2 linked regions of the Homo sapiens genome follow. The protein of the gene in region 2 interacts with the protein of the main gene of each other region in a pairwise test. Each region holds a gene or a part of one and is shown on either strand. Other genes may lie near its edges.

What was found.
Region 1: the proteins of CCDC88A (region 2) and EXOC1 interact in a two-hybrid assay, tested with the Homo sapiens proteins (2 studies listed by BioGRID and IntAct).

The regions. Positions count from the first base shown.
Region 1 is NC_000004.12:55,887,403-55,904,382, reverse strand, and holds part of EXOC1 (exocyst complex component 1), read right to left. Parts: intron 15,496-16,980; coding exon 15,451-15,495; intron 14,792-15,450; exon of another isoform or gene 14,161-14,791; coding exon 13,997-14,160; exon of another isoform or gene 13,857-13,996; intron 13,069-13,856; coding exon 12,961-13,068; intron 11,839-12,960; coding exon of another isoform or gene 11,830-11,838; exon of another isoform or gene 11,749-11,829; coding exon 11,672-11,748; exon of another isoform or gene 11,671-11,671; intron 10,832-11,670; coding exon 10,603-10,831; intron 7,667-10,602; coding exon 7,483-7,666; intron 4,699-7,482; coding exon 4,499-4,698; intron 3,549-4,498; exon of another isoform or gene 3,229-3,548; intron 2,040-3,228; coding exon 1,845-2,039; intron 41-1,844; coding exon 1-40.
Region 2 is NC_000002.12:55,407,453-55,419,298, reverse strand, and holds part of CCDC88A (girdin), read left to right. Parts: 5' UTR 1-219; coding exon 220-282; intron 283-382; coding exon 383-483; intron 484-11,846. UniProt on the Homo sapiens protein: Bifunctional modulator of guanine nucleotide-binding proteins (G proteins). Acts as a non-receptor guanine nucleotide exchange factor which binds to and activates guanine nucleotide-binding protein G(i) alpha subunits.

The sequences.
Region 1 (16,980 bases), on a different chromosome or scaffold from region 2:
ACTGGCGTATAAATTCATCTTGCATGGAGTGCCACACCACCTATTATTAAAAAAAAAAGTCATTAGGCTATGAATGGAAATAATATGTAATCTAGTATGCAGAAATAATGCCAAGGCATATTCTAAGAATTTGGGTAGTATAGTAGCTAGGAACATGCATTCTGAAACCAGAATCCCAGTCACTTTTACCTACAAGATTTGTAACCTTCAGTACATGACATCACTGCTCTATGCCTCAAGTTCCTCATCTATAAACCAAGATAATAATAAGACCTTCCTCATAATGCTGTGAGAATTAAATAAGAAATGTACATAAAGTGCTTCAAACTGCGTTTGACACAAGTAAGCACTCATGACATTTTAGCTATTATCTTATATACTCCAATATGCAACACAGATGTGGATATGCACAATTATGTATAGAACTAAGACTAGTGATTACATAAAATGTAATGCTTTAATTTCATTTCCTATAACATTTAAAGTTTTCTTTATCTAAAATTGTTGATGCAAAACCTTGCTTGATGCCTTGGAGGACAGCAAAATGACTCAGACCCATTATCTGCAATCATGTGATTTATAATCTAACAGTGGAGGCTAATATGTAGACAATTACCAAGACACAATGTGATACACACATTGACATAATGGCTTAAATAGATTACATTAATTGAAGCTTACTCTTTATCAGCACAGTACAAAGCACTTTATGAATATATTATAGTATTAAGTCTCATGATGACCTGGTGAGGGTGGGTATTATGATCATCTTCCCTATTTGACAGCTGAGGGAATGTATTCTTCCAAGATTTTTTCTTGTAAATCCTAAATCTCATAAATCCTAAATTCCTGCCAACTTAAGACCAATCGCTATTCCCTAAGCAGTGTTATGCTTTTTACTTTTCATCGTTTAGCTCATATTATTTCTTTCTAGAATGCTACTCCCTCCATCCCCACTTTGCCTGTTCAAGTACATCTGACTTTCAGAGGTTAAAACAAACAATGCAATATCCCTCAGGAAGTCTTCCATGATGTTGAAATCAGAATTACTCTCACTCATATCTGGGCCTTTCAATATGGTTTATAAAGAATAATGGCCTAATTTGGACTTTAAATCTGGCTCCACTACCCATTAGTTAAGAGAGCTTGGTCCTATTACTCCACCTCTCTAAGCTGATTTTCTTTCTTTCTCTTTCTTTCTTTTTCTTTCTTTCTTTCTTTTTTTTTTTTTTTTTAATTGAGACACGGCCTCACTCTGTTGCGTAGGCTGGAGTGCAGTGGTAGGATCATAGTTCACTGGAGCCTCAATCTCCTGGGCTCAAGTGATCCTCCTGCCTCAGCTTCCCGAGTAGCTGGGACTACAGGCACGTGCCACCATGCCCAGCTAATTTTTTTAATTTTTAGTAGAGACAAGGTCTTGCTATGTTGCCCAATACAGTGGCTACTGTACAAGAGATGTATCGTTTCCACTTATCAAATAAGGAAACTAAGGCTCAGAGAGGTTAAGTAACTTCCCAAAGTCACACAGCTTAATCTGGAGCCAGATTATGAACCCATCTCTAATTCCAACCACTCAACCAACCAACCAACCAACCAACCAACCAACCAAAGAAAAACAAACTTAATGCCTCACCATAATATAGCAGAAATACGAAATAAGCAGAAATAGCCATATATGCTTATATAAACAGTATTCCTTTCTTCCTCACAATTCATTAATCTGGTCTGTACTCTAATGGAACTCTCCTCCTGCTCTAGATCTGTAGCATTTCTAGAAAATTATTTAAAGAAAAGCAATATATGTAAGGATCTTTAAGTCAGATGGTCAAAAGAAGTAAGCATACCTGAAGTAAGTTCTCTTCTTCACATAAATGTTTATCAACTTTCTTGTAGAGGTTATCTAGACCTTTTTTTACTTCCTTTCCAGGGTACTCCTTAATGACTTTACGAAGTTCTTGTTTGTTAAATGCAAGTTGGTAACTTACTTCCTCCTCCCTTATGCCCTGTGCCACGCGAGCTTCAACACCTTCAAAGAAATGCTTCAAGGAAATGAAAAGAAACAATGGCTAAGACCTGCATTTATTATTATTTACATTAAAAAAATCTGATTACAAAGTAGTGTATAATCACCATGCAAAAATCAGTGTGTGAAAGTATAAACAATAAAATAACAATCACTTATTAACATACTTCTGAGATGAACATTGTTAATATTGTAGAGTTCCTTGTAATCTTTTGATGTGTGAATACATACAGGAGATTAAAATTTCATGTCCCACTTTACATTTAATATTGTTTTTTCCTAAATATAAATTTTAATGGCTGCATAATATTTCACACAATGACTGAACCACAATTATTATTCATTCCTCTAGTACTAGATATTTAACATCCCACTCCCCCTTCTTTTTTTGGACTTGGCAAATCTAGTGAGACTTTAGAAAATCTACTATAAATATATTTGTCATAAATTTTTTTTGTATATAAGTATTTACCCATCTTACTGATTAAATTTCCAGGACTATAATTACTCTGTTGAAGAGCATAACTTTAAGTATTTGAAAGATTCTTCAGTATATATACAAACTGCTTCCTAGGAAAGCTCAACCAATTTATATTTCTGTCAACAGTGTATGAGGTTGCTACTTCACTATACCATCATAAGCATTATGACAATTTATAACAATAGTTGCCAGAGTAAAAAAAGTTTGTCATTTTATTTTATAATTCTTTGGCTATAAATAAGGTTAACCTGCTTTTATATGTTTAGTAGTGATTCAGCCCCTTGCCCCATTTATAAATTGGGGTCTTAGTGCTTTTCTTATTGATTTTAGTAAGATTTTTTATATTAAATATACTGACTCTGTTATATTATTGTAACTATTATTCCCAGGTCTTCTTTTATATATATACTTTTATTGACTGGCATAACTGTATTTGAGCACGATACAAAGAATTAATGCTGACAAACCCCATTCCCTCTCATTACTTTTTTCTAAAATTTTCTTAGTGATTATTCATTAAATTATCATTCTTTGAGAAGTTATTCTTAGTGCTTTAAAAATTTTGTTTTTACATAAGCTCTTAATTGGTAGACAGGAAATACATTGTTTTTCAGTATATTTGCTTTAAATTTTGTCACTTGACCAACACCAGTAATTTCAACATATCATATACAGGTGGTGATAATCTCGTCTCTGTTTTCCATATCTCTTATTTATGTTTCAGGTCTTGTTGAACTGGCTAGTGCTTCAACAACAATGCTAAATAATAAAGGATCTAACAATATTTCTGCTTTAAATTGATTTCAGAGGGAATGTCTCTAACGTTGCAGTTAAGTATCATGTAAGCTTTAGGCCTGAGATAGATCTTTTATCCAGTTAAAGGAATATTTGTCTGTTCTTAAGTTTTATAAGGAATTAGTTCTGCATTTGATTAAATGTCTTTCAAGTATTTCTTTGAATTGTTGACAGCAGATACATATTCTTTTTTTTTGTTTTGTTTTGAGACTGAGTCTTGCTCTGTCGCCCAGGCTGGAGCGCAGTGGTGTGATCTCCACTCATTGCAACCACCACCTCCTAGGATCAAGTGATTCTCCTGCCTCAGCCTCCCAAGTAGCTAGGACTACAGGAGCGTGCCACCACGCCCAGTTAATTTTTTTTTACATTTTTAGTAAAGACGGGGTTTCACCTTGTTAGCTAGGATGGTCTCGATCTTCTGACCTCGTGATCCGCCTGCCTTGGCCTCCCAAAGTGCTGGGATTACAGGTGTGAGTCACCGCGCTATTTTACTCTAACTTCAAGTTAAGAGCTTATAAAAGATAACTATATTGCAGACAAAGTTAGTTTAAAAGGTTCATTTAAGCTTTCACTATCTTGTAAAGTTCCCTAAAATCATCATTTCTTAACTTTAATTAACAGACTTACTCTGGGAAATGACTCAAGTAAGGAAAAAAAAAGAAGGGAAAGAAAAGTAAAAGGCAATGTAGAAAGCAATTTTTGGTTTTTCTTTTATCTTAATAATATTTTTGAAATTTCCACCTAGACATTGTAAACTTGGTCATTTATAAAGTAAGAAATGGGAAAGAGTAACGGCAAAGCCTAATCTAGGTTCATCCCCCAGCTTTGTAATTTATAAGCTATTATGATGTCGGGCAAGTTTTTTTACTTTCAGTTTCTTCATTTGTGAAATGGGGATAATATTATCTTAGCTTACACATCATTGTTTATAAGAATTAAAAGAAATAATGCATAATAGAATACTAGTACAATTATCATTAAAATATAGTAGATAAATAATGTATAAAAATAATGTACAGAAAGAAGAAATAAAATATATAGCATCTAGCAGTGTCTGGCACACTGGCAGCTTCAATAACTGAGTCCCCTGTGCACCAACACATGAGAAAATTTAAGATAAATGTCTGCAGGTTATTCATATGCAAACTTATGTGTATAGGTTCAAAAGTAGGAAAAATACTGAATGAAAATATATTTACATTTAGTTTTTCAAGAGGTTGTCCTAAAGAGTAAATGACATAAGACTGAAGGTGATCTGTGTATTTTTGTTTGGCTTCTTTTTTTTCTGCTTCTAGACATGAGATTTTCAATCGAGAAAGAGTTGCAAAAATATGGTGAAAGTTTTCCATCATAACCACATCCCTGGGGGTCTTCTGGCTTTCATTTGCTACTTTCTCCACTAAAACCAAAACAGAAAAAATAAAATAACATCTCTGAGTATGACCATATTTAGCTATAAACATTTATACTATTAATTTTTTTTCATTTGTAAGTTTAAGAATTAAGCACATTTCTGGACTTAATACAATATATTGTAATGGGAGTCTTCAGATCTACCTAATCATAATAAAAAGTCATCCTAAAACAGTCCCATGTGTATATGGAAATTCAGTATATAATAAAAGTAGCTTTTCAGATCAATGGAGAAATGATGAATTATTCAAAATGTGTTAGGACAACCGGCTGGACCATTTTAATATATGAAATTTAAGTTCCTACTTTACATCTTGCAGTCAAATTCTAAATTGCTAAATTATTTAAAATGTAAAAAGCAAACAAATAATACAATCATAAGTACTAAAGAAAATATAACTAATAGAAAAATAATAATTTTGCAATAGTGTGACCTTGCTAAGAATGGCCCAAAATTTAGAAGACTGTTAAGGGGAAAGATAAATAAATTGGAGATAAAATTTGAAAATTCATGTAAAGTAAAGACACCATATACAAAATCAATGAAATGCAAAATAAAATAGTGAGATAATTTATAGCCTATCAGGTTGACAAAGAATAAAAAGATTGGTAATACCTAGTAAAACCCAGCATTGGTACAGCTGTAATGCAACTGCTCATAGCACTAAACTGACATAAGCTTTCTGTATCACAATTTGGGAAAAGACTTGAGATACATAAATCCTTTGACCCAGTAATTCCATTTCTAGTAATTTACCCTAAAGAAATTATTTGACAAGTATACAAAGATAGATAAACTAAAAAAATCCTAAATGTTTATTAATAGAAGATTTGGTAAATGGATAATGACATATGGATGACTATGCAATCATTAAAAATGATTATGTTTATCTATATTAACTAACTAAGAAAGATACTAAGATTATATAGAGTCCAGCAGCTTCAAAAATAGTGTGTCAGGTATGACAACACTTTTATATTAAAGAAAGCACACATACAATATGCCCATATATAGAAGAGAGGGACAGGGAATTTAAAAGTTTGGAAGAATAAAAATTTAACATTATCTCTGTACAACAAGATTAAAAATGATCTTTACTTTCTTCTTGATTTGAAAATTCTATTCGCTGATTTTTGGGGATAAATAGTTATTTATGTTTCAGGTCTTGTACTGGCTAGCACTTCAATAACAATGCTAAATAATAAAGGATCTAACAATACTTCTGCTTTAAATTCATTTCAGAGGGAATATCTCTACTGTTGCAGTTAAGTATCATGTAACCTTTAGGCCTGAGATAGATTTTTTATCCAATTAAAGGAATATCTGTCTGTTCTTAAGTTTTATAAGTTTTAGTTTATAAAGATTTATAAAGAACGAATAATGAATTCATTCATTCATTTATTATTTATTTTTAAGACAGGGTCTGGCTTTGTCATCCAGGCTAGAGTGCAGTAGCATGAACAAGGCTCACTGCAGCCTTGACCTCCTGAGCTCAAATGATTCTCCTGCCTCAGCCTCCTGTGTAGCTGAAACTCAGGGACACACCACCACGTCTGGCTAATTTTTTAAATTTTTTTTGTACAGACAAGGCCTCACTATGATGCCCAGGCTGGTCTTGAACTCCTGGGCTCAAGCGATCCCCCAACTGGTCCTTCCAAAGTGCTGCGATTACAGGTGTGGGCCACTGTGCCTAGCCACATTACTTTAGAATCAGATAAAGCAAAGCTACTTTGAATTTTAAAAGAAAAAATCAAGGCTGGACACGGTGGCTCATGCCTGTAATCCCAGCACTTTGGGAGGCCAAGGCGGGCAGATCACTTGAGGTCAAGAGTTTGAGACAAGTCTGGCCAACATGGTGAAACCCTGTCTCTATTAAAAATACAAAAATTAGCCAGGCGTGATGATGCCTGCCTATAATCCCAGCTACTTAGGAGGCTGAGGCAGCAGAATTGCTTGAACTCGGGAGGTGAAGGTTGCAGCGAGCCGAGATTATGCCACCGCACTCCAACCTGGGCAACAATTGGTGAGATGATTCCATTTTCTATCAATTTTTTAGCTTTTACAATTCCTGAATATATGCAATCAGATCATTTATTTCAGATGAAATGACATGTCCAGACTTTTCTGTAACTTAATTGTGGGATCTGACACAGGAAGAAAGCGAATTACAGTATTTCAGCACTAATTTCTCTTGTATTTTAGTACTAATTTCCTTGTATAGTAGATATGAAAAACTGAGTCCTAAATAAGTGAATTGATTTGCTTAAGGTTACACACACATCACAGCCCATCATCTCTAGAAGACCACTTGTTAAAATGCAAATGTAATCTGGAAGGTCATGTTTTTGTGTTTAAAAAATGATTTTCTACAAAAAATTAGCAGGGCATGGTAGGGTGCACCTGTAGTCCCAGCTACTTGGGAGGGTGAGGTAGGAGGATCTTTTGAGCCTGGGAGGTGGAGGTTGCAGTGAGCCAAGATCATGCCACCGCACTCCAGCCTGGGCGACAGAGTGAGGCCCATCTTAAAAAAAAAAAAAAAAGATTTTCAATTTTGCATAGTCATAAGCCCACATAAACCCTAAAATGTAAGTGGTTCATAATGAATACAAATAGGTTTTATTTTCCAAATTCAAGAAATCTTTAATGTTAGAAAACCTAAAAAAGATTATAAGATATACAAAATAATGAACCTATCTGCTCCCGATTTCTTAGTTACCAGAAATAAAAACAATAGCTATAACAATTCTTTAGAACATAACAAAAGCTTACCATTAACAAATACTCCTCTGATAAGTTTGGTGTATGCTTTATCCAGGTCTCCACGACGCTCAGCATTTTTGAAGATTGATTCTGCAAGTCCAGCAAATTCTTCAAATTCAGCAACAAATGGAAGAATTCCAACTTTACTCTTTTTTGAGATCTTTACTTCTTCCATTTGCCTTATTTGGTTACTCTAAAGTTAGGCAGAGAGCAAGGGAGATAAATAACCAAGCAACTTTAAAACTACATATAATCATAACAAAATATATAGATGGAGATATAGATATATACATAGATATCATAGAGGCAGGATATTATGTGGTACCTAGAACACTTTGGATGCTTACTAATTGAAGATGAATCAAAACAAGGATAACTAAGAAAAACTAATTCTATAGATAATAAAACCATTTTACAGTAAGTTTAAGAAAATCAAAATAATACAGATTATTTAAAACCATCTATAAGCTGGGGACGGTGGCTCATGCCTGTAATCCCAGCACTTTGGGAGGCCAAGGTGGGTGGATCGCTTGAGGCCAAGAGTTCAAGACCAGCCTGGCCATTTTCGTCTCTACAAAAAATACAAAAAAAAATTAGCTGGGTGGGGTCGTGCATGCCTGTAATCCCAGCTACTTGGGAGGCTGAGGAATGAGAATTGCTTGAACCTGGGAGGCAGAGGTTGCAGTGAGCCAAGATTGCGCCACTGCACTCCAGCCTGGGTGACAGAGCAAGACTGTCTCAAAAAATAAAATGAAACAAAACAAAATACAATCAAGGCCGTGAACTTCAAGTCTCTGTACAAAGTAAAAACAGTCAACACACATTTCTACCATTTATGAAAGATGAGTACAAGGCAATTACTGATTTTAGGTTACAGGAGAGAAGATTCCAGAGCACCTATAGGATCCCTCCGGGTAACTTCTGGTTGGTGGCCACGTGGTCAAGTTTGAGAACCACAGTCATTTCCAATTTTCGTCAGTCTAAAATTTCTGTCTGGATAGACAAACTCTCTATTTTCAGAGTACAGAAACAAAGAGGGAGGATAGGCATTTCCATATGGATTTGCATTATTTAATTTTCCATATATTTATTAGTCACTTAGCCTTAGTTCCACAAACTGCTTGTGCATTATATGACAAAATGCGAAAGAAATGTTTCATGCAGACAGAATCTTAGGTTCAAAACGATCCACGGATTCAATTATGGTTCTATGATTCTGAAGGGATCTAAATCTACTCAGTAGGAATGATTACACTGCCAAATACTTTTGTATTATTTCAGCTTCTACCTAACATTTCATTGTGTTGAGATTTGGGGAGTATAACTCAAAAACCATATGACACATGGATTAGAAAAATAATTATCTCTAGGCTTCTGACATTAGTATAAGAAAACCCTAAGAGTATAGTCAGTTATTTCATATTATCTGTACTAATGTTCTACTTCATCAGTATTGGTAACTGTGAGGTGAAAAACAGATGCAGTAGAAAAGGTAGTGGTAAGATTGCAGGTACTAGAACCAGACTTTCTGGGTTTGAATACAAGATCCATATTTTTTAACTGTGGACCTGGGGAAAGTAACTTCACCTCTCAAACAATCTACCTTATTGAGGGGCTGGGTTTAAGATTAGATGACATAATGTGTGCAAAGTGCCCAGACTTGTGCCTGGTACACAGTAAGCACTCATTTATAAATGCTGTCTATTGATCTTATTGACCAGTGTTCATAAATGAGAGATAAGATCTTATCAAAAATAAGACATTATTGAAATAAGATATACAGAAGTATGACAGGCAGAAGAAACCACCCTCCTCTTCAGTGGCAAACCTATGTCCTTTATATATATATATGCAACTTATGAGAAAATATGAATTTATATCTTTGTCTAGATTACCTTCTCTAGTGCCATGCCTTGAGAAGTGTTCATGAAGCATTTTTTAACCTGGCCTAGCCCAATTCATACATACAAGTATAAAAAATGTAATGGATAGATGGCCGGTGTCTCTTGCTTGTAATCTCAGCACTTTGGGAGGCTGAGGTGGGCAGATCACCTGAGGTTGGGAGTTTGAGACCAGCATGACCAACATGGAGAAACCCCATCTCTACTAAAAATACAAAACTAGCAGGGCGTGGTGGCGCATGCCTGCAATCCCAGCTACTCGGGAGGCTGAGGCAGGAGAATCACTTGAACCCAGGAGGCGGAGGTTGCGGTGAGCCGAGATTGCACTGTTGCACTCCAGCCTGGGCAACAAGAACGAGACTCCATCTCAAAAAAAAAAAAAAAAAAAAAAAAAGTAACAGATAGTAAGAAAGTTGTCAAATTTTTTTCTATTAGGAGGAAAATGATAATTGCTCAGTTATAACAATTTATTCCTAAAATAAAATACAATTATTAAAGCTACTAAACTATTAAAATAAATTAAATAATTAAAATAATCAAATTAGTTTTCTTACTAGAATGTATTAAAAGAAGAACAATAACAATAAACCCAAATGATTGTTTCAATTGTTTCATTAAATCAATGGTCATTGACTAATAAACTGAGATGTCAGTGATTCGGTAGATTTTTTTTTTTTTTTTTTTGACACAGTCTTCACTCTTGTCACCCAGGCTGGAGAGCACTGGTGCAATCTTGGCTCACTGCAACCTCCACTTCACAGGTTCAAGCAATTCTCCTGCCTCAGCCTCCCGAGTAGTTGGAATTATAGGCATGTGCTACCACGCCCGGCTAATTTTTGTATTTTTGGTAGAGATGGGGTTTCGCCATGTTCTCCAGGCTGGTCTCGAACTCCTGACCTCAGGTGATCTGCCCACCTCGGCCTTAAAAAGTGCTGGCATTACAGGTGTGAGTCACTGCGTCTGGCCTCCAGTGGATCTCTTAAGCAACTGGTGCCACTGTGCCACTTCCTCCAGAACTTGCCAAGATTCACAGTGTGGAATGGAAACTAGCTGGCATAGTGCCACCCAACTAACTCTGTTCATGTAGATTGTTGCCATGCCCTGCTTCGAGGGACATAAACAACAGATTCCCCAACAGAAAGCTGGAAATCCCTCGATTTTAAATACATTTACCTATATTTTGCAATGACTAGGATGCTAAGGTATTTTTTTAAAAAAGAAAACTTACAATGCATTTGTCAAAGTTCCTTTTGACAGTCACCAAAACATTTCCCAATGTAGTACTTAGGAAAGAAGCAGGGTCCACATTTTGTGCAGTCCACACATGATGACTCATTTTGACTAACATATAAAGAGAGTTAAAGCTATCAATTTTGTCTCCTAATGCAATTAGGTTGTTCAGCTCTGGCTCAATGCAGCGAAATATTTTAATCATCATTTGGCGGATCATATCTTTCCTGTTCAGAAAACAGACAAGAAGTATAAAGTTATAACAAGCTTCAGGTGAATTCACCGTTAACTTTAATCCACTGGGTATATACAAAAGGACAAAAATACCATAATTAAATTTCAATTAAAAATGTCTAAATAGCCAGGCGTGGTGGCTCACGCCTGTAATCCCAGCACTTTGAGAGGCCAAGGTGTGCAGGTCACCTGAGGTCAGGAGTTCAAGACCAGCTTGGCCAACATGGTAAAACCCTGTCTCTACCAAAAGTACAAAAATTAGCCAGACGTGGTGGTGCATGTCTGTAATCCCAGCTACTTGGGAGGCTGAGTCAGGAGAATCGCTTGAACCCGGGAGGTGAAGTGCAGTTGCAGTGAGCTGAGATGGCGCCATTGCATTCCAGCCTGGGCAGCAGAGGGAGACTCCATCTCAGAAAACAACAACAACAAAAAACAAATAAAAATGTCTAAATATGATTATAGTAGTTTTTGATATAAAAATATTTTACTGATGTTGGGTTTTATCATTTGAATTAGTTTTAATTTGTAAAGCTGGGTCATGAAATGTGCTTTGTGATTTCTAAGAAATACACTACAATTCAAAGGCTTCCCCCTACCAGCAAACAACAGACTGACTTCATCTTCTGTAAGTCCTGGAGCAAGGAAGAGTTGAAGAGCCATAAAATAGGCCCTATTTTAAATCAGTAAAACGTTTGATAAGACAATGGACACACATGCTGGTACTGTGAGTGCTGTCAGGCTACTGAGAAACATCTAGACCCCTCAATGAGCAGCACTCCACATTTTAAAGTTTATTTTTTCCAAAATAAACAATGATAGTAACAAAGACATACTCAGATGAAACAGGCAGTGGTGTGCCACAATTATGTTGCCGTGATAATGTTCCTCCATCCAGGTCCTCTGCTTCAGCCTGCAAAAATTATTCAGGCACTTTACATAATAAAAGACCAACAATTTGACTAGTATTGATATAGCAAAAGCCTGCTCAGTCTTAAAATTCCTAGGAAAGAATACATTATGAAAAATATTTTTAAAGGTAGCATTATGATAAAGCTAGCTATATAATTTAGTATGCTATTTAAGAATGTTCATGAGATACTCTTCTTAGGTTTTATCCAAGAACTTTTGTGGGGTGAGAAGTTGTATTTGTGTGTGCACCTGAGGGGAAGTAGGGAGGTACAGGAAGCTGAACGCAAGGTGTGGGAGTGGGGGCAGCTTGACAACAACCACCACAAAAATAGAAAACGTCCAAACACAACTTTCAAAAGAGAATTTAAAAAATTAAGGAAATCTCATCAATTATTCTAATAGAACTTCAGCATTAAAAAAATGCTATAAAAAATTCTTACAGAGGCCAACAAATAAACAAATTTGCCACCATTACTACCATAACAATGAACACTCTAAACCATTTATCATAATCCATTTCTCATTTATTTTATGACTGCTTTTATAAGTTGGTTGTCTGTGGCATACAATTTTGAGATGATAATTTAAAAAACACTTTATTTGCACTGTTTTTAAGTTCTTCAAAATACTCAAGAAACTCTCTCATCTTATTCTCTTATATGTATGCTACCAGAAAGGCATGCTGAATAGGCACTATGATATCTACTTTACAGAAGAGGAAAGCTGGGGATCGAATAACTGGCTTAAGATCTCATGGCTAGTTAGTAACAAAGCCACAAGGAAGGCAAATCTGAGGCCTCATTTTCTTTTATTTATCATTATTGTTATTTGGTATACCAAAGTGTATACACTCTAACATCATTTTAAAACATTATATTTATCTTGATGACTACTAAAATGTTAAACTAGCCTTTTAAATAATGTTCTTTGCAAAGTAAACTCAGACATTCCTCCCCCCACTAATTTAGAGAATATTTAGGCTTGTAATATTCTGAAATATTAAATTAGATGCCCAAACTTCATCTGTCACTGTTTTTATCATCTTGTGGTATTACAAAAATTCCTTACATCCTAAATCCTTACATCATAAAAAAATCCTTACATGATAAATTCTTTCCTTTTCTCTTCTGATCATAAAATTGTGACCACATATTAATTAAGCTAATTATATTACAGATCATAAATACTATCCAAAATACACTGTGAGCCATACCATAGTTCCAGGCATACTTTGATGTTGCTGTAGTTTGAAAAATTTACTTATGAAGTCCTGTTCTGCCAGACATAGGGGCTCCAGTTCACTTAGTACCTGTTCAAAGATCTGAAGAAAACCAAAGTGATCCTATAACGAAAGAACTGCACCAAATGCTTAAAATAACACTCCACATTTAATTTTCTTTTCTGCACAGACCATGGATCCATAATCTCACTAATCTATGAATTTATAATCTCAATGGAATCCCAAAAACAAACTCTTCCAAGATCTACAGGACAATGGTATTAGCAAGGTATAACAAGGCCACAAAATAAACCTAAAATAAAACTCACAGTTATTCACTTCACATCTGGAAAGAGGAGCACAAAGATCAACTTTTAAAACTTATTTATGGCCAGGCATGATGTCTCATGCCTGTAATCCCAGCACTTTGGGAGGCCAAAGCGGGCAGATCACTTGAGCTCAGGAGTTCGAAACCAGCCTGGCCAGCATGGTGAAACCCCATCTCCACTAAAAATACAAAAATTAGCTGGGTGTGGTGGCAGGCACCTGTAATCCCAGCTACCTGGGAGGGAGGCAGAAGAACTGCTTGAACCCAGAAGGTGGAGGTTGCAGTGAGCTGAGACTGTGCCACTGCATTCCAGCCTGGGTGACAGAGCAAGACTCCATTTCAAAAACAAACAAACAAAAAAACTTATTTAATTTAGTACAGAGAAAGGCCAGCATCACAAAAGCTTTTATTTCCTCTTACTTTTTAGGTGCCCAAACAACTTAGATTTGAGATATAAGCATTTTATGATTTATAACAAATTTTAATAAAGCTTTTATGCCATTTCATTGATAATTCACATTTTACTTGTCCTTTGACTAGTTTTTTTTTTTTTTTTTCCCAGATTCGATTCAGTTGGAAAGACATGGTTAATGCTTAAGAGAGCCAGAAGAACCCAAATCTTTGAACACACTTAGAGCAACCACAAACTGCTGTTAGAAAACTAATGTTAATGTTTAAGAAGTACTTGTTATTTTAGTTTACCTTATCAAATTTGGTCCTGTCAGCAACATCGAGATCAGAGGCAGACATGTTTCCCATATCCAACAGGGAAGATGACTGAGATCTGCGATTCCCTGAACTCTGAACACTGAGCTTATTTAGACTAGAAGTAGATCCAGTTAATTTCCCCGAACTTCCATGAAGACCTAAGAAATAATAAAACTTTGAAAGTTGTGATCTTCACAAATAAATGATCCAAAGTATAAAGCAGGGATAGATCTTCTATCTTCTACTGGCTTGATCTTCCAGGGCTCATATTAGTTAGTGCACAAATCTTCTATAAGGGATAGGTGGTATAGTTTCCTTATCTTCCATTAACATTGGTGTCCTAATTCTGAGCATATTGAAAAAAGAAGCGAAACTACACAGATCCATAGAACGGGACTGAAAGGGACCTTAAGGAGCATATTGTCTATAACCTGCCCATTTCATAAAGTCGCCTGGTGATATCGCTAGACTAAAGTAGATGAGGGTTTCTTTTCCATTCAAAAGGACAGGAATATGGATGAAGGTCAATGAGGACCACGTTAGCATATTAGCCAGCATGACTTTGTTATACTTCAGAAGAAAACTGCTGCATCTCAATGTTACCTCCACAATAAATCAATATATTAGGTTGAACCACATGAAACTGCCCATACTTGATCATTTTGCCCTACCAAAAAAAGTCAATTACATATGATTCAACTTAGTATGTTCCAAACTCTGAAACTGCTTTTCCAGTAAGTGAACTGATTATAGTCCTTTAAAAACTAAATAAAATGAACAGAAAAAACACCCTGAAAACTCGTTATATTTAAAATACAGCCGAAATGTAATACATACATCACTAATCATATTAATATGGGACATCTGTGTTTAGGTAAAATTTTGGTATCCGTCATAGCCATGAGGAAAAATGAGAACATATAGCTGGCAATAGCTCACATACACCAAGGAATTAAAGGATTTGATTTTTAGAAGAAAATGTGATATTTTTATTCAGAATTAAACATAAACAATAACTAATATATTTTAAAAACATCCTTCCTGAATATCTCTCAGTTAACTTGTACTATTTGCTAATGGTCAGAAAAGACAAATGAAGACAGAACAGGTACAATTAAAGATAAACTTTGGCTTCATTATGTAAAATCCGACCATATCTATATAAGATTTTTTATAGTTTCTAAACAGCCTGAAAATAGAAGTATAATGGTTAAGTCTTTTCACAAATTTCTGACACAATGTTCTACTACTCGTCAAGTAATTTTAACTATATCATATATTTCTTGGATACAGCCATATCACTACCATCATGTTGGCTTTCTTTCACCAATACCTGGCAATTCAGAGCAATCAAAATTTTTGGTGTTACCTTTTTTCAAGACAACTAATTTCTAGACATTAAACAAACATGCATTGAGAATACCTACTAATACACTAAGCATACTCACTCTCTGTTTCCTGTTTGACAGCACTTTCTTTTCGAGGCAGTGTAGCTGTGATGGATTAGGTTGCAAGCATCAAAGACAAAGACAAGTTAATAAACTGCAATTTGCACAAACCATGCACAAGAGGAAGTTAAAGCTCTAGTTTAAAAGACACATGCAAAGAACCATGAGCATCAAGTAACAAGAAGTGCAAACACATGTTTAGTTGGTCACCTACTGTTTGAGAAATTATATGAGAGAAAAAACTTTACTTTTAATGTATTGTTTTTACTCAAATATTCAGGTAGAAATATCTATGTGTAACCCCCCTACACTTTAAAATGTTTTTTTTTTTTAAGTTTATTAAGCTGGTACACTTAAATTTAAAAGACTAAATTTGCAAGTTTGGGTTTCCTGAGAAAATATAATTCAAGTAAATAAAGTGGCAATTTATTAGAATGCAGCTGCAGATTTAGATGTCAACAATCTTGTATTCCCTGAAAACTCCTGAAAGGATTCTCCACTGACTAAATAATTTTATACTATATCCAACAAAAAATTATATGAGTGGGGCTTTAAAACCACTGAAAAGTTAAAACTAATTATCAAGCTGAATTACTTAATCACTGGCTTTGTGAGTGCTCAGAATGAAAGATATATATCATAACACTAACAATCAGATGTATGAATAAAAGGGTAAAGTTTAGGGAACAGATGTAATATAAGAATTTGAACTCTTTTTAGGTCATTAGGCATTTCTTTTATCTAAAACTTCTCTCTCTATAATATTTATTAGATCAATATGAGAGCTAATTTTGCAAAAACAGTCTATACTCAAATTAGAAGTTGATGTGAAAGGTGAAGAAAGATCATAGGATGAAACAGAATGTTAAAGAATAAAACTAAAACCTAAAAATATCTTTAAAACAGCAAAAAGATGTGTCAACTGACATTATCCCTGCCAAGCTTCAAGGCAAAAATCTTGTCACATCAGTGACTGGTATATCTTCATCAGTGACAGGTATATCTTTCTAGCCTTGGCTACCTGAAGCTCAAGGGAATATGAAAAAACAAGGCTGGACATTAAAGTGGCAAACAGGGATCACGCTGGAGCTACTAGCTAGCCAATCTGAACAGTACTTTCTGGTGCCTTAAGGTGTCACTATGCTATGTTCAGCAGTGCCAGAGCAAAATCTAATTCTTTATATGGTTTCCTTTTTTTTTTTTTTTTGAGGCAGGATCTCATTAGGTTGACAAGGCTGGACCTGAACTCCTGGGCTCAAGTGATCCTCCTACCTCAGCCTCCCATATAGCTGAGATTATAGATGTGGATCACCATGCCTGACTAGTTTTCTTTCTTTAGTAGTCAATAAGGAATACAGACTTAGTAGTAGTGCCTATTAATTATAATTTGAGGTTCATAAAACAGCCTATATCCCTTATCAGCAAGTGATAACACTCAGGTAAAATGTTAAATATCTTTATATAATCCCCACTAGAATGTAAACTTCATAAAGGTAGGGTCTTTGTTTACTGCTGCATTCCCAGTACTTA
Region 2 (11,846 bases):
GCTCGTGGTGTCCGTCGTCGAAGCCACTTCTTGGGATTTCGGCTCGTTTCACTCTGGGGTGTTTTTTGAGGAGGGAGAGTGCCCCCCTCCTCCACGATGGGATTTTTCTCCCTTGCCGAAATGGACTTTCATTGATTTCTACTTACTTCCACGTTTAGTGACCAATTCCCTAGGCGTATTTTTGTGGTAGTTCCTTTTTTCAAATACATACTCTGTAAAATGGAGAACGAAATTTTTACTCCCCTTCTGGAGCAGTTCATGACCAGCCCTTTGGTCACTTGGGTAAGTGGGGTGTCCTTTATTGTATATTTTGCTGAGTTATTTGTGGCTGCAGAGATGGAGGTGGGCGTTCATGTCGTGGTGATCCTTCTGTTTGTTCTAGGTTAAAACGTTTGGACCTCTGGCCGCAGGAAATGGGACCAACCTTGATGAATATGTGGCTTTGGTGGATGGGGTATTCTTGAACCAGGTCATGCTCCAAATGTAAGTTCTTCCTTCTTTCCTAGGTAACGTTTTCTTTGAGAAATAGCATATGGTGAACTTTGAGACACGATGTTTTAAGCCCCTAATTTGGTTCATTGGCCAGAAATATTCAGGTGGTTTAAGAATTGGATCTTGAAAGGAATGCTAATGTTATGGGCTCAGCCCATTATCACAACCTAGATATTTTACCTGTTAAAATTGTGAAACTTTAGTTTTTCATTCTGTCAACCATGTATTGTCACTTGTCTTCAGTACTGAAATCCAAGCCACATTGTGTATTCTTTGATAATTTGGTAAAATAAGAGAGAAAATGAGAATCTGGTTTCCTAAGAGAGGAAAAAAGACTTTACTGTGAAGTTATGTGCATTTGATGCAGAAATGTTTCTTATTAACCTTTATATCTAGAAATAAATGGCTCAAAATTTGAAACTCGTTAAGTAATAGCAGATTTCAGAAGAGAAAATTTCAAACAGTTCTGATTGGTGAGGACTCTTGCTGTAGTAAATAATTTAAATGCCTGTAATAACTAAAGCCTGATGAGATGATTTATTGTGTGAATTATTAGGTTGCTTAATATTTTAGGGATCATTTTAAGGTATTCTTACAGGTTTTGAAATGCAAATAACAAGTCTTGATAACAATTAGATAACGACTTATTGGGCAAATCTTTGTCTTTTGTGTTTATAATATTGGGTTTGTACTAAGTAGGAAAGTATGCTTTTGAGATGGGAATTGAATAGTGAAAGTATATTGGTAGCTGGATCAGTAAAATTAAAACTCAGCTTTTATCTAATTACAGCTATTGTAGCATACGTGTATTCTAAGTACGCTAATGTAGTTTATCAAACTGAATTTTTCAGTTGTGCTCAAAGTAATGTATACTTAGTCTTATTTCTCTTTAATAGAATCTGATGAGAAGAGGTAGTTTGGAACTTTTATATGTATGGGAAATTGGTGTGTTATCAATAAATAGTTGTTACTAGAGAATAAGTCTACCATTCTGCTCTGATAACCTTATCAATTTTGTATTTTATTGGTTTAGATTTTTATGTTTAAGAGGGTAGAAGTCACATCTATAAAAAATTGCTCTCGTGTTAACTTCTCTGTGTGCTCAAAGAGATTTGTGGGCTGTTTTTCATGTACATGTTGATCCTACAGGGAAGTATTATACTATTATACATTTTCAACCAGTGTTTTGTTTTCATAGGCACCCAAAGAAATATATATGTTATCTAAATATGTATATATTTATTTTTTTCCTTAAGAAAGGAAAAAAGAGCGTAGACATCAATTATTTCCAGGGTTAGTAAATGTATTTTTGACAGCTGTGTAATGGAATTATTTTTTATCCTCAAAATATCTGACTATTTCCTAAGCAAAATGGTAGGATAATAAACTGACTTCTCTTTTGGGGAACCTACATGACAGAAAGGGTAGCCATTACAGTAGATACTCAGAATTTGTTCCCCTGTGTCTCTTTATTGTGCTTATTTTTAGACGGAAGATTTTGAATTTGTGTGCTAAAAATGTGTGTTCACAAAAATAGGGAAATATATTACTTTAGTTTTCCACTTTAATGGTTTTTATTTGAATGATTCTTTTTCCAGAAAAATTTAGATTTTTTTTTTGCATCCTAAATACTTAGCTGAGGTGCTAAAAACAAATACGTTAATTTCCACTTCAAATGCAGTTTTATGCTTAAAAAATATATGTATATTTTGAAAATGACGGTATTCCAAAATAGTGTTTGTCAGGTTGCTGTTTTTCATGAGGACTAGCTCCTTTCCAAACCACAAATCTGCTTCTGTATTTTCAGTTCCACCTCTCAGTTTCTTTAGATTTTTTTTCGGTGTCCTAATTCTGTTGTAAATGACCTATAAAATTAAAGGAAAAGAAAAGAAAAAAAAAGTATACTTTTGCTTTGTTTGAATAATTTGCTAAAATAAGATCAAATTTATCTTAATAAATTATTTAACTGATAGGGCAACAAAATATACATTGTTTTATAAGCTGTATTTTGCTAATTTTGAAGTCATTAGGATTTCTGTTAAGCACTTTACTTAGATTAATGTATGCTTTAATGTACTCTATTATAAAGTGTCAGTTGTAACTCTATACCTAGTAAATGTAAAAGTTAGGCCTAGTCTAATTTCTACAGTACATTTAGTTACAGAATTTGTGAGCAAGAACCCTTTGTAAATGAAACTATTTATATATTTTCCATGTTTCTTGTGCTTGGAATTCAATGAGTGTCTTGGATCTGTGGGTTTATAGTTTTTATCAAATTTAGAAAAGTTTCAGTCATTATTCCTAGAAGAAAATATATACATATATATATATATATATATATATATATATATATATATATATATTTATTTATTTATTTATTTGACCTCTTCACCCTTTTGGAAGTCCAGTTACATATATATTAGTAGCTTTGATGTTGTCTTAAAACTTACTGATGTTTAATTCAATTTTCTTTCAGTCTTCTTTGTTTCATTTTGGATAGTCTGTTGTGATGTCTCCAAATTTATTAATTTTTTCTTCTATAATGTTTAGTCTGCTCTTAATCCCACCCACCATATTTTTCATTCCAGATATTATAACTTCATCTTTAGAAATTGTCTTATATCTTCCATGTCTATGTTTTTCATGCTCTGTCTTTTCTCTAGCTTCTTGAACATATGGAATACAGTTATAATTGGCTTAATGTCTATGTCTGCTAATTCTGTCTGTGTCATTTTGGGGTTGGTTTCGGTTGATTGATATTTCTTCCCATTATGGATTCTGTTGCTTTTGCATGCCTGGTGATTTTTTTTTTAATTTGATGCCAGTCATTTGAAATTTTAGCTTGTTTGGCGCTGGATATTTTTGTATTCCATTAAATACAAAAATCTTGAGCTTCGTTCTGGGATGCATTAAGTTACCTGAAAACAGTTTGATCTTTTGGGGACATGCTTTTAAGATTTGTTAGGCAGTACTACTTTGTCACACTGTTGAGGCAAAACCCCTCTGAATACTCCAGCTGGTGGAAACAGGACCTACTTGGTGGTGTTCGCTCTCAGTCTTTTTGGTGGTTCTTTCACTATCTTTGGGTAGTTTCCTCACACTTATATTCTGATAAGTACTCAGACTTGAGGGATACCCTCTGCAGATCTTTCTCACTGTTCAACTCTGTTAAGTACTCTGCCCTGTGTACTTTAGCTACCTTGCTGTCTCCAGACTCAGTTCTGTCCCCTCAGCTCAGACCATTGTGCTCTGCCTGGATTCCCCTCTTCCTGTTCTGTGGCCTGGAAACTCTTTCAAGGCCATAATGCTGGAGCAGTTGTTGGATTCATGCTTGTTTCCCATCGATTGGGGATCACTGTCTTTTGTTGCCTGATGTCCAATGTCTTGAAAAACGTTTTATGTATTTTGTCTTTTTTTCCCCCCAGTTGTTTCAGGGAGGAGGGCAAATTTGGTCTCTGGCCACCAGTAGAAATATGTTTGTATACTTTTTTGTTTTTCAAGATGGGGTCTGGCTATGTTGCTCAGGCTGGAATATGTGATCATAGTGCATTATGGCCTCAAACTCCTGGGGTCAGGCCATCCTCCCACCCTAAACATCTGAGTAGTTGGGACTACAGGCACGCGCACCACAATGCCTGGCTGTTTATATACTTTTAATTACATTTTTGCTCTGCTAGTCTTATATTACTGCTTTTAGATGTGAGATGGACTTTTTTTATAGGAACCTTTTTTTTTTTTTTTGAAACAGAGTCTCGCTCCATGCCCAGGCGGGAGTGCAGTGGTGTGATCTCAACTCACTGCAAGCTCTACCTCCCGGGTTCACGCCATTCTCCTGCCTCAGGCTCCCGAGTAACTGGGGCTACAGGCACCCACCACCACGCCTGGCTAATTTTTTGTATTTTTTTAGTAGAGACGGGGTTTCACCGTGTTAGCCAGGATGGTCTCGATCTCCTGACCTCGTGATCCGCCTGCCTCAGCCTCCCAAAGTGCTGGGATTACAGGCATTAGCCACCACACCTGGCCAGGAACCTTATTATATAAGTTTTTTCATCTAAAATGTTTATTAAGACTAAGAAAATTGATTAATTTAATGACTCTGTTGTTGCTGTTTTGCACCCAGACTCTGAAAGTGAAGAGCTAACTTCTTCATGACACTGTTTACTGACTCTGCCTCACAATTTTGAAGTCTTTTCACTGACTTGAGATTTACTGTATTCAGAGATGAATCCTGAATTTCATTGAGTAGCTTTTTGAAGCAAATAATCTCTGTTAGAACTTGTAACATGACTTCAATCGTCTTAAACTAATGGGAAGGAAGAGGAAAGCTATTCAGAGATCTGGAATGATGGGCCAGCTCTTCTGTACGCTGTAGGGCATTTTCCTACTTCAGTGGATTGAAATCTTTTTTCTTTATTGTTATCAGTTGTAGGGCTTGGTGACAGTGAAGTAGAAATAATTATTTTCCTGTTTGAGATGTCATTTAATTCTGGAGCCAGTTTTGAATATTACTTGCTGTGAGTTTTTAAGGAATTTGTGACATTGTAGTTAATTTCATACTCCTAAAATTTTAAAAACGTCCAATTCATATTACCCAAACGGTTGAAAATATGGATGTCTTAGGATTTTAAGTACTGAGAAAATTGTTAATAGTATCAGAACAATATTTGGAATTATTATTTATGATTCAACCCTATTAGATAGTTATAGAGAGCTGTACTTGGAACACTTGGTAATTGTGATAAACTTGTTATGGCTTTTCCTTTAGAATTTTGGGTTTGAAGGGACTTCAGAAGTCATCTGCCCTTTTTTGTTTGTTTGTTTGCTTGTTTTTTTTTTTTGTTTTTGTTTTTGTTTTTTGAGACGGTCTTGTTCTGTTGCCCGGGCTGGAGTGCAGGGGCATGATCACCGCTCACTGCAGCCTTCACCTCCCGGGCTCAAGCTATCCTCCCACCTTAGCCTCCCAAGTACCTAGGACCACAGGCACGCGCTACCATGCTTGACTAATTTTTGTATTTTTTGTAGAGATGGAGTTTCACTGTGTTGCCCAGGCTGGTCTCAAGCGATCCACCCACCTCAGCCTCCCAAAGTTCTGGGATTATAGGCACAAACCAGCCTGACTCTTTGCTTGACTCTATTGACTAGGCTGTGAGTTTCCTGAAGCCAGGGACTCTATCTTTTGTCTCTGTATTCTTAGGACAGTGTTTGACACACAGTACATTCTTGATATATTTCTGTTGAATGATTGAATAATACAGCCATGTGTAGTAAAGTGGAATGAATTTGAGCCTTATGTCAGATAGACATAGACTTGGGTTCAGTTCTAGCTGTGCTACTTATTGGTATGTGAGCCTAATATCTCCAAATTACAGTTCCTACATTTATAAGATGGGAGATAATGTTTCCCTTCCTGATGGGGAAGGATTATCTACTAAGGCAGGGACAGATAAGTCTATTTTCTGTTTTGTTGACCCACTATATCCCCAGTGCTGGTTGCTGTCATTATTATTATCCTGTGCTATGCTATATCTACCTACTTATGGCTCCTCAAGTAAATCATGATAGTTCACAGCTTAGTTTTTTTGTTTGTTTGTTTGTTTTTGAGACAGGATCTCACTCTGTCACCCAGGCTGGACTGCAGTGGCACAATCGCAACCCACTGCAACCTCAAACTCCTAGGCTGAAGCAATCCTCCCACCTCAGCTTCCCAAGCAGCTGGGACTGCAGGCATGTGCTACTGCACCTGGCTAATTTTTTAAAATTTTTTTTATAGAGACCGGGTCTCACTTTTTTGCCCAGGCTGGTCTTGAATTCCTGGGTTCAAGTGATCCTCCCACCTCAGCTTCCCAAAGTGGCTGGCATTACAGGCATGAGCCACTGCGCCTGGCCGACAGCTTAGTTTTGTATGATCTCTGTTAGTGTCACCTCTATATAGCTGTATGATCTTTAGTAAGTTACTTAATTTGTAAGTGGGATAAAAAGTCACAGGATTGTTATGAGAATCAAATAGAATAATGTATGTACAATGCTTAACATATAGAAAGTGTCCAATAAATGTTAGCTCTTTATTGTTTTATTTATATTATTATCATTAGAATTATTTTCTTCAAGACCAGCGGTCCCCAACCTTTTTGGCAGCAAGGACTGGTTTCATGGAAGACGATTTTTACATGGAGCAAGGCTGAGGGGAGATGGTTTCAGGATGAAACTGTTCTACCTCAGATCATCAGCCATTAGATTCTTATGAGGAGAGTGCAACCTAGATCCCTCGCATCTACAGTTCACAATAGGGTTTGTGGTCCTGTGAGAATCTAATGCTGTTGTTGATCTGACAGGAGGCAGAGCTCAGGCAGTAATGCTTGCCCGCCCACCACTGATCTGCTGTGTGGCTTTCCTAACAAGCCATGGACCCAATCCATGGCCCAGGGGTTAGAGACTCCTGCTCTAGACTATCCTTCCCCTTTTCTTTGACTAACCAATTCCTGCTCTTCCTTTAATACCTTGTGAAGTCCCCAGGCAGAGTTGTTTTCTTCCTTATGATTCGGAAGTACCTTCACCTGCGTAGCTATTGCTTTGCAGTATTACTGTTTAGGGGCTAGATGTTTTGTCTCACATATTACTAGCACCTAACCTAGTACTTAGCATGTATCACTAGCACCTAGCATAGAAGTTGGCATGTCGTAAGTTGTAAGTAAATGTTGAAGGAATAAGTGAAGATAGCTGCAATTTTATTAATTTTCAAAATTTTGAGAATACCTTCTAGTTTTAGTACTGTAGAATTTAGTTTATTTTTTAGTTTGTCTTCTGTTTCTCCTTTTTGTTTGTTCTCTCTCTTTCCCCGTATTTGTTTTAATTACCTTTATTGGATATTTTTCCCACCGATGTTATATCTCCTTTGAGGCAAGGTGATAGGAGCAAGATTTCATGGTCCATGGTTTTTTATAGTATTAGAATATACAGTGCTTTCAGTTTGGTTTCCAATAACTTTCCTGTCCAATATGTTGAGTTTTTTTTTTTTTTTTTTTTTTTTGAGACGGAGTCTTACTCTGTCGTCTAGGCTGGAGTACAGTGGCGTGATCTCGGCTCACTGCAACCTCCTTCTCCCAGGTTCAACCAATTCTCCTGTCTCAGCCTCCTGAGTAGTTGGGATTACAAGGTGCCCACCACCGTGCCTGGTGAAGTTTTGTGTTTTTAGTAGAGACGGGATTTCACCATTTTGGCCAGGCTGGTTTCGAACTCCTGACCTCAAGTGATCTGTCCACCTGAGCCTCCCAAAATCTCATGCTGGGATTACAGGCATGAGCCACCGTGCCTGGGCCATGTTGAGATTTTTTTGTCCACAGCTTTGTATTGGACTGTCTTCAAGAAAAGTCCATTGTGATTGCCTCATTCTCAATATGATTCATATGTAGTTAAACTACAGAAATGATGAGAACCTAGAGAAGAACAGGTGAACTAGTTGTTATACCTGAGAGTATTTTTAAATTTTTTAACTGAAAATTTTCTCTTAATATATATTATGGGAGACTAGTTCTCACAGGATAAATGGAAAGGAAGACCAGTTCTTTCAAAAGGACACCAGCTGACTTTCTTTTAGGATCCATGAAACAGTTTGATACCATTCTAGGCATTAAGTTTTCAATATTCAGAAATAGTATTTGAGATTATACTTGGTACTGGGACATCTGTATAATACTTAATTTATTAATTAGTAAACTGGCTGCTTTTGGAGAGTCAGAGTGGTGGGAGGGCAAAAACAAAAACATGGGCTTGAAAGTTTAAATCCTGAATCAATCATTTAATATTTAGCTAGTTATTGAAACTGGAAAATTACTTTAAATGTTCTCTTTATTCCTGATTCTATTTTTATGCCTTCTTAGATCTATTTTACTAGTTTAATAATTTTTTTTTTTTTTTGAGACAAGGCCTCTCTCTCTTGCCGAGACTGGAATGCAGTGGCGAGATCTTGGTTCACTGCAACCTCTGCCTCCTGGGCTCAAACGATCCTCTCACCTCAGCCTCCTGAGTAGCTAGGACTACTACCATGCCCAGCTAATTTTTCTTTTCTTTTTTTTGTTTTTTGTTTTTTGTAAAGGCAGAGTTTTGCTGTGTTGCCCATTCTGGTTCCAATCTCCTGGGTTCAAGCTATCCACCACCTCAGCCTCCCAAAGTGCAGAGATTAGAGGCGTGAGCCAGTGTGCCTGGCCTACTTTAATAATTAATAAAAATAGGTGGATAAAACCCATCAACTTCACTCTGAGTGAGAGGAGATCTGCCCCTAACATTTGTAAGATCCAGGATAAGCATCCATTTACCACAATAGGCCTAAATATTTAAAGCTTATAAACCAGGCCAACAAATCATTATCTATATTCTAGTCTTTTCTCTTGATAAATATACCTTCATAATGACTTGAAAGTTTCAAATTTAAAATCTGTGGAATTTAGAATTCATAAATTCACAGTTTTGCAGCAGAGTGTGGTTAAGCCCAACCTCCTCCCGTCATCTCTGGCTCTTTCTAGCACCACAAAGAGGTCTCCTGTACATGCTGTGAACACCTTGCATGCACGCACAAGGTCTAAGCTCTTGTACTCCCATCCCCAAACAAGTACTCCTTGGCCCAAGGGTGTACACAAGTGTAGCACAGTCTTTTCTAAGGACAGACCTAGGAAAGAGGCCTGTGTGGGCCTTCAAATTGAGTTAGAAGTGCTTGGGCAAGAAATTGCAAAGTTCTGGGCACCTGGAGTGTCATTTAAAAGTGGGGAGGTAGGCCAGACTTGGGGGCTCACACCTGTAATCCCAGCACTTTGGGAGGCTGAGGCGGGTGGATCACTTGAGGTCAGGAGTTCAAGATCAGCCTGGCCAATATGGTGAAACCCCGTCTCTAATAAAAATACAAAAATTAGCAGGGCATGTTGGCGGGCCCCTGTAATCCCAGCTACTCGGGAGGCTGAGGCAGGAGAATCACTTGAAGCTGGGAGGCGGAGGTTGCAGTGAGCCGAGATTGCGCCACTGCACTCCGGCTTGGGTGACAGTGAGACTCTGTCTGAAAAAAAAAAAAAAAAAAAAAAGGGAGGTATATAGGCACATCCCCCTGTTTACATGGACTCCTCTCCCAGTGGAAGCATGTGGGCCGAGGAGGGCCGGAGTTGGACTCAGGGCAGAGCTCTCTCATCAGGATCTAAATGTAATACTCAGTGAGAGGGATGAAGGGCTAGTTCATTCAAAGATCAATTAATATGGGAATAGTTTCTAAGTACTTACTGTGTAATAAACTGTTAGATGCTAGGAATAGGATGCTTTGCCCACAATAAGGGGGAGGTGCATGTAAACAAATTGCAATGTGGTATCTGTGCCATGATAAGGAATTATGTTCTTGAGACAGTGTTCGCACAGAAAGGGAAGTGATGATTTACATGGAGGAAAGGCTTCTTGGAGGAGATGATGTTTGAGCTGGACATGAGAGCTCCGTAGGAGAAATCAGAGTGAACAGGAGTCATAAGTAGTGGGAGAGTGGAAGGAAGGACATTTTAAGCAAAGAAAATAGCATGAAAAAGAGGCATGAAGATGTAAATAACGGTGGAGGAATTAGGAAGTTTGAGAAAAGTGGAAACATTTTACAAGGCTGCTAAGAGGAAATCACAAAGAGTGTCAGTTAAAGATGAATACAAGTATTGTCATGCAGGGTTGATGGCTTATTTGAGATTTGGAAACCACACATTTGTAGTTGAGCCAGTGAGCATAGCATGGTTGAGTAACCAGTAATGCTTAGCTGCTCAGAAACTGACGAAAATACCTGTAGAATTTATTCAGAATTGGAAATTCTGAATAAACAGACGTGGGATGAGAGAAAAAACATACTACAGATTCTTAGCTGAATAGTTGAATAATAATGTGTGAGCATTAAAGTGAGGAAGAAAGCAAGTATCAGGAGGAACTTACAGAGTAAAGGTTGTGTTACTGGAAAGGGGTCCCAATCCAGACCCCAAGAGAGGGTTCTTGGATCTTGGGCAAGAAAGAATTTAGGGCAAGTCTATAAAGTGAAAGCAAGTTTATTAAGAAAGTAGAGGAATATAAGTATGACTACTCCACAGGCAGAGCAGCCATGAGGGCTGCTGATTGCCCATTTTTGTGGTTATTTCTTGATGATATGCCAAACAAGGGGTAGATTATTCATGCCTCCCCTTTTTAGACCATATAGGGTAACTTCCTGCCATTGCCATGGCATTTGTAAACTGTCATGGCACTGGTAGGAGTGTAGCAGTGAGGACAACCAGAGGACACTCTTGTCAGCATCTTGGTTTTGGTGGGCTCTGGTGAGTTTCTTTACTGCAACCTGTTTTGTCAGCGTGGTCTTTATGACCTGTATCTTGTGCCAACCTCTTATCTCAACCTGTGACTTAGAATGCCTAACTGTCCGGGAATGAAGCTCAGCAAGTCATAGCTTTATTTTACCTAGCCCCTATTCGAGATGGAGTTGCTCTGGTTCAAACGCCTCTGAGAGTTGTAATAAGAATGAAGGAAGAGTAGGTTAGAAGTGAGGGCATGAGAGAGGGTGAAAAGATAGGAGGTCAAGGTCAGAGTAGATTTTCAGAATTTGAGATTTTGGAGGTTGCAATTCTGAATAGTGATTAGGACCAAGATTAGACAGTACTAATGGGTGGATAAAATAGAATAAAATGAAGATACGTAAAGTGGAGAAGGAACTTTCTTCCTTATTTTTTTAATGAAACTATGATCTCTTGATTTAACACTAGAGGTAGAAGTTAGTATTTTGAATTAAAGTAGAAAGGGCCAGGCGCGGTGGCTCACACCTGTAATCCCAGCACTTTGGGAGGCCGAGGCAGGTGGATCACTTGAGGTCAGAAGTTCGAGACCAGCCAAGCCAACATGGTGAAACCCCGTCTCTACTAAAAATACAAAAGTTAGCTGGGCATGGTGGTGGGTGCCTGTAATCCCAGCTACACGGGAGGCAGAGGCAGGAGAGTTCCTTGAACCTGGGAGGTGGAGGCTGCAGTGAGCTGAGATCATGCCACTGCACTACAGCCTGGAAGACAGAGCAAGACTCTGTCTCAAAAAAAAAAAAAAAATTAAACTAGAAAGCTGGGCAATGAATAAATTAAGAAATAATGTAATAGTGGGGAAGGAAAAAAAGGTAATTGTTTATAACATTTTATTTTATTTTATTTTATTTACTTATTGTTTGAGACAGAGTCTTGCTCTGTCACCCAGGCTGGAGTGCAGTGATGCGATCTTGGCTCACTACAACCTCTGCCTCCCGGTTTCAAGCCACTTTCCTGTGTCAGCCTCCCAAGTAGCTGGGATTATAGGCACCCACCACCATGCCTGGCTAATTT